Linked DNA regions of Homo sapiens. The gene in region 2 interacts genetically with the main gene of each other region. Each region holds a gene or a part of one and is shown on either strand. Other genes may lie near its edges.

Region 1 (3,500 bases), on a different chromosome or scaffold from region 2:
CCCAAGAGGTGGAGGTTGCAGTGAGCTGAGATTTTGCCACTGCACTCCAGCCTGGGTGACAGAGTGAGATTCTGTCTAAAAAAAAAAAAAAGAAAAAAAATTGTGTGTTTATTTGTATATTCATGTATAAAATATGTGTATAATGAATTTGTGTTTGTGCATATGTACAATAAATCTATAATATTTATATATCTTATACATATTCATATAATATACAGACATACCTCGTTTTATTGCATTTTGCAGATACTGTGTTTTTTACAAATTGGAGGTTTGTGGCAACTCTTTGTCCAGCAGGTCTATTGGAGCCATTTTTCCTACAGCATGTGCCACTTCGTGTCTCTGTGTCACATGTGGGTAATTCTCACAGTACTGCAGACTTTCTCATTATTACTATATCTGTCATGGCGATCCGTGATCAGTGATCTCTGATGTTACTGTTTTAATTTTGGGGGGTGCCACCGACCTTGCCCATATAAAAGGGTGAACTTAATGGATAAATGTGTGTGCTCGGACTGCCCCACTGACCAGCCATTCCCTCATCTCTCCCCATCTCCTTGAGCCTCCGTATTCCCTGAGACACATGATTTTGAAATCAGGCCAATTCAGTTCATAACCTTACAATGGCCTCGAGGTGTTCAAGTGAAAGGAAGAGTCAACATTTTTCACTTTAAATAAAAAGCTTCATAGGCCAGGTGCGGTGGCTCACGCCTGTAATCCTAGTGGTTTGGGAGGCTGAGGCAGGCAGATCACCTGAGATCAGGAGTTTGAGACCAGCCTGGCCAAGATGGCGAAACCCCGATTCTACTAAAAATACAAAAATTAGCCAGGCGTGGTGGCGCATGCCGGTGATCTCAGCTACTTGGGTGGCTGAGACACGAGAATTGCTTGAACCACGAGGTGGAGGTAACAGTAAGCCAAGATTGCACCACTGCACTCCAGCCTGGGCGACAAGAGTGTGGCTCCATCTCAAAAAAGAGATTCTTTTCAAACTATTACTGCTGGCCAGGCACTGTGGCTCACACCTGTAATGCCAGCACTTTGGGAGACCAACATGGGAGGATCACTTAAGCCCAGGAGTTGGAGGTTATGGTAAGTCATGATTGCACCACTGCATTCCAGCTGGGCAACAGAACAAGACCCTGTCTTGAAAAGAGAGAGAGAAAGAGAAGGAAGGAAGGAAGGGAGGAAGGGAGGGAGGAAAGAAGGAAGGAAGGAAGGACGGAGAAGAAAAGGGAAGGGAAGGGAAGGAAGGGAGGGAGGGAAGGAAGGGAAGGAAGGGAGGAAGAAAAGAAAGGAAAGGAAGGAAGGAAGGAAGGAAGGAATTGCCGCAGCCATCTCAACCTTGAACGACAACCGCCCTGATCAGTCAGCAGCCCATCAACATCAAGGCAAGGCCCTACACAACAGAAAGGTTCCAACTTGCTGAGTCCTCAAATGATCACAACATTTTTAGCAGGATTTTAAAATTAAGGTATGTACTTTTTTTTTTCTAGACATAATGCTATTGTGCACTTAACAGACTACAGTATAGGATAAACATAACTTTTTTTTTTGAGATGGAGTCACACTCTGTCCCCCAGGCTGGAGTGCAGTGGCGTGATCTCAGCTCACTGCAACCTCTGCCTCCCAGGTTCAAGCGATTCTCCTGCCTCAGTCTCCCAAGTCGCTGGGATTACAGGTGTGTGCCACCAGACCCAGCTGATTTTTGTATTTTTAGTAGAGATGGGGTTTTACCATGTTGGCCAGGCTGGTCTCAAACTCCTGACCTCAAATGATCCACCTGCCTCAGCTTCCCAAAATGCTGGGATTACGGTGTGAGCCACTGTGCCTGGCCTCTTTTTATTTGTTTTTGAGGCAGGTTCTCACTCTGTCACCCTGGCTGGAGTGCAGTGGCACAATCACGATTCACTGCAGCCTCAACCTCCCGGGCTCAAGTGATCCTCCCACCTCAGTCTCCTGAGTAGCTGGGATGACAGGTGTGTGCCACCACTCCTGGCTCATTTTTGTCTTTTTTGTAGAGACAGGGTCTTGCTGTATTGCCCAGTCTGGTCTTGAACTCCTGGGCTCAAGCGACCCTCCCTCCTAGGCCTCCCGCACTGCTGTGGGAGCCACTGTGCCCGGCCTCAACTCCTCCTATCTGAGGTGGCTCCCCTCGGTCATTCTCCACCACACCCATGTCTTGGCTTCATGGCACTTTTGAATTATCTTGTTCATCTGTGGGTTTCTGTATTTCCTCTTGTCTCCCCACCAGCTGAACACTCTGTGAGAACAGTGAGGGACCCCTATCTCCCCACACAGGGCAAGAACCCCTGGAAATGTGTGCTGGATGAACGGATGGCAGGACGCTGGGGGCAGCCAGGTGTCTGCGTAGGTCTTCTCAGGGGCCGTCGGGTCTGGACAGCATCCCTGAATCTCCAACACAGCAGGTAATGCTGACAGCCCGCGCCATTCCCCAAGCCCCCACGATTTACCAAGCTCTTCCCCTACTTTGAAAAGCGGGGGCCCAAAGAGACCCGAGGACCTGCCCATGGAGGAACAGAGCCAGGGCTGGGTGACCCCAGCAGTGGACGGGGTAGGGGCGCTCACCTTCCACAGAGAGCTTCTCCACCGCCCGGCGCTCGCCACGGGAGCAGTGTGGGGGCAACGTGTAGCCCTTGATGCTGCGGCCAGTGCGGACGCGGCTGCTGAGCACGTAGTTAGGGTCCAGGTCGTCTCCACCCTGGAGAGCGGGTGGGAGATCAGGACCAGGCAGATCCTCCGCCCTCTCCAGCAAGCCCAGGTCTCCCCCAGATGCTCCCCTCAGTCTCCCTGTTGCTTCCTTTGCCTTCTGCATCCTCACTGATTGGGTGTGTGGAGCCTCTCCCCGCCACCCATACCTGGGCTCTGTCTCTCCCTTCTCTGTCTCTCTCCCCTCTCCTATCTCTGTTTTTCTTTATACCTCTCTCTCCCCATCTTCGTATATTTCTTTTCCTTTTTTTTCTTCGAGACAGGGTCTCTCTCTGTCGCCCAGGCTGGAGTGCAGTGGTGCCATCATAGCTCACTGCAACCTCAAACTCCTGGGCTCAAGCAATTCCCCTGCCTCAGCCTCCCAAGTAGCTGGGACTAACAGGTAGGTATATGCCACCATGTTCGGCTAACTTAAAATAAATTTTTTATAAATAGAGACAGGGGCTGGGCGCGGTGGCTCACACCTGTAATCCCAACACTTTGGGAAGCCGAGGTGAGCCAATCACCTGAGGTCAGGAGTTCGAAACCAGCTTGGCCAACATGGTGAAACCCCATTTCTACTAAAAATACAAAAATTAGCTGGGCGTGGTGGTGCGCGCCTGTAATCCCAGCTACTCAGGAGGCTGAGGCACGAGAATCACTTGAACCTGGGGATCAGGGGTTTCCGTGAGCTGAGATCGAGCCACTGCACTCCAACCTGGGTGACAGAGTGAGATTCTGTCTCAAAAAAAAAAAAAAAATAGAGACAGGGTGTCACTATGTTGCCCAGG
Region 2 (3,500 bases):
ACACAGCCTCAGCTTCAGGTGGCTAGCCCCTCCTCACCCACTTCATTCAACTGGGCCTTGCTCTTGTCCTGCTCCTACGCGGGCCCCACACAGAGCTGCCGACAAGCCGCCTCACTATTTTTCTCCATCCATTTCATTTGTATGTGAGTCTCCCTGACAACCCAGTCAGTTATGCAAGAAAACTTCAAATTTGCTGGTCCCCCGTTTAGCACCTTTGCTTTGGAATCCTAGAATAGTCCTCTCAGAAGGGGCTTGGAGATGATCCCATCTAAGAGGACTCACAGATCAGGAGACTGAGGCTGAGATGGGGCAGGGAGACTGGACCTAGCGCCTGCAGTGGGGGAAGGCAGGGAGGTGCATCAACTTCTCTGAGCCCCAGTGTGGAAACAGCTCCTAATGTTTCTCCCCGCCGGGGTGTTGTTGCATCCAGTGGGCACAATGGCAGAAGGGCCAGCACAGGGCCTCCTGGAGTGACCCCCGGCAGAGGAGACAGCACGGGGCCTCCCAGAGTGACCCCTGAGCTGGGGTGATCTGGGCCAGGCACCTGCCTCGGCAAGTGGATTCTAAAATGGCAGGTGGGAAGGACCCAAAGGTGGGGTGGGCGTGCCTGGCTCTGTCCCCAGGTGGGGCTGGGGCCCATGGAGAGTCCAGAGAAGCTCACTCTACTGCAAAAGGCCAGGTAGCAGTGGGTGATGCCCTGCCACCTCCTCCCATCTACAGGCCTGATGGGGAGGCCAGTTTTCCCTGGGCTAAGAGAAGAGCTTGATGCTCTAAAAGGAGCATCAAGAATCCCTGAACTTAGCCAGGTGTGGTGGCTCACACCTGTAATCCCAGCACTCTGGGAGGCTGAGGTGGGCGAATCACCTGAGGTCAGGAGTTCAAGACCAGCCTGGCCAACATGGCAAAAACCTGTCTCTACTAAACATGCAAAAATTAGCTGGGCATGGTGGTGCACGCCTGTAATCCCAGCTACTCGGGAGGCTGAGGTAGGAGAATCGCTTGAACCTGGGAGGCAATGGTTGCAGTGAGCCGAGATCGCTCTATTGCACTCCAGCCTGGGTGACAGAGCAAGACTCTGTCCCCCCAAAAAATAAGCCCTGAACTCAGGGACAGCAGCAGGCCTCCTTCTGCAAGGGAGTCAGGTCCACCTGTGGTGGCAGATGGTACCAAGCTGGAGCCACTGTGCCCCGTGCCCTGGGGAGCCATGACCTGTTTCCCTGCTAACATGTCCAGTCTGTGGCTTGTTCCTTTGGGGAAGGCAGGAAGAGCCTCTCTCTGGCAGAAACACTTATAACCAGGAGGAAGGGGGGGCGCTACCTAGAGCCCTGCAGTGCCAAGGGCCCCAGGGGCCCAACAGTATTTCTAGAAAAGGCCCCTCCACACGAGGACTCATTCCCATGTCCACAGTGCTCTGGCCTTCACTGTAACCTGTAACAGGCAGACAGGCAGGAATCAGCCCCACGCACAGCCTCCCCCAGGGAGGCGTAAGCAGCCCCATAGCTAGTAAGTGGGATGATGAAGCCCCCGAGTCTCCAGCGCTCTTGCCACTCCAGAGTGCTGATTCTGCTCGACTCTCACCTCCACGCTTCTGTTCACACAGTGCCCTCTGCTAGGAATGCCCTTCCCCTTAAACCTAGTATTGCTGCTCTTCTCGCTCTTGCCTGACAGAGAAGAGAGTGAAAGAACCAGCTCTGGACCCAGACCTGGCTCTTTAAGCACTTGGAGCTGTGTGGCTCTGGGTAAGTCATGGAACCTCTCTGGGCCTGAGTTTGCTCATTAGGAAAATGGGGATTGTTATATCTATTTATGACTGCTTTGTGGTGAGAATTCCATGTGATGATTAGCACAGTGCCTAGCACATAGTGAGCACTCTCTAATGCTTGCTCTTATTATGGCTGGTGGCTCAAACACTGTCAACAGCTGCATGCATCCTCTGAGCCCCCAGGCAGCATCTGATACTCTCCCACTGCTTGTAGGCTCTGAATCACAGCATGTTGGAGCCCCTGTGCCCTGGAGACCTGCCCCACTGCCACACGAAGGGGGCTGTCTCAGGCCCAGAGCTCACCGCCCACCCCTCCCTACCCAGAGCTCTGCACAGAGCCCGATAGGAGGAGCTGTGGCTGCTGATGGGGCTGGGGGCCCCAACAGCAGAAAAGATCAGCCTTTCTCTCAGCCCCCATCACCATCCCTGCCACCCCAGCAGACAATCAGGCTGGCACTCCTAAGACCTCACCTGTCTCCCTGGAGAAGAACATAGCGACCACTAACACCCACTTGTGCCGAGTCCCACACAGGGTCTCTCATCTGCCAACAGCCTTGATGAGCACAAGGTATTTCCCTGTTTTTGCAGACAACGAGACCAGCACTGAGAGGTTAGTGATATGCCCCAGGCCACATAGTAAGCAGCAGGTTGGGATTCAAACCTAGCTCTTGCAGACTCCAAGTCTACACCACGTGGCCAACGGCCAACACGGGCCCTGACGGTGATGCCGCTGCTGATGGTGATGGTGGCATTTACTGGGTACCAATAGCCAGGTCCACCCTGTGCTTCCCTCCTGCCCCACTTTCACCTCCACAAGAACCCCAGAGGTGGGCGCTACTGCTGGACCCATTTTACAGATGAGGAAGTTAACACACAGAGCTGAGATTCTCTCATCCAGGCCTATGTGGCTCCGAATCCCTTGCTCCCTAAACGCACCCAAAATAGACCTTCATGCTCATATGATTCTTAGGGGAGAGAGGGCCCGCACACAGGCAGTGCTAGGGGCAGGTGGGGAGAGGAGGGGGAGGAGACCCACTGCAGAGTGGGGCCTGAGGCCCCTTCCCAGGAGGCAGGTGGGGATGAAGCGGGTGGGAGCTGGGAGGCTAAGCCACTTCCTGACTGTGCTGGGCAGTGGGTGGGGGTGGGCATGGTCAAAGTCCCAGTCTCACTTAGGGAGAGTGCCCCAGCTGCTGGCACCACCCCTTTTGTGGCTGCTCAACAACCCTAGAGGGCAGGAATGGGGCCTGGTCACGTGGCCACTGAAGTGGAGCAAAGGGCACCGGCATGGAGTGACAGCGGGCAGCGCCTGCCAGCCTCCCTCACAGGGCCAGGGCTCCTCCAGGGCAAGGGGCCCAGGCTACTCTTGGAATGGAGGGGAGAGGATGAGGATTTTCCCCGAGGTCCCTGGCCTTGCCCTGAAGCCCCTCAGGGGCCTGGTGCACCAAATGTCAACCTTGGGCCGGTTCTTGATCCTAAGAAGGGAGATTGGGGACGAGTGGCGCTGGCCTCTGGGCTGCCCACCCCTTGCAGGCCAGAGAGAGAACTGGGCTTATATAAGGGAGGCCTGAAGCAGTGGTGCAGTGACAGACAGGCACCAACAGGCGGGAGAGGCATTGCCCCCACCCCTCCCCAGGACCTGCAGGGAGGCTGGGGTCTCTGGGCCTGCTGACCTCTGCAGTAATCAAGGCCCCCAGGAGTCCCTTGGTGAGATCCGGAGCTCCCAAGCCCAGCCCAAGGT

Evidence for each region. A genetic interaction does not mean that the proteins touch.
Region 1: changes in PDK2 (region 2) and CKM together harm fitness less than expected from each alone (positive genetic interaction), as found in Homo sapiens cells (one large-scale study listed by BioGRID).

What each region holds. Positions count from the first base shown.
Region 1 is NC_000019.10:45,312,876-45,316,375, forward strand, and holds part of CKM (creatine kinase M-type), read right to left. Parts: intron 2,723-3,500; coding exon 2,590-2,722; intron 1-2,589. UniProt on the Homo sapiens protein: Reversibly catalyzes the transfer of phosphate between ATP and various phosphogens (e.g. creatine phosphate).
Region 2 is NC_000017.11:50,101,851-50,105,350, reverse strand, and holds part of PDK2 (pyruvate dehydrogenase kinase, isozyme 2 isoform 1 precursor), read right to left. Parts: intron 3,499-3,500; exon of another isoform or gene 2,955-3,498; intron 1-2,954. UniProt on the Homo sapiens protein: Kinase that plays a key role in the regulation of glucose and fatty acid metabolism and homeostasis via phosphorylation of the pyruvate dehydrogenase subunits PDHA1 and PDHA2.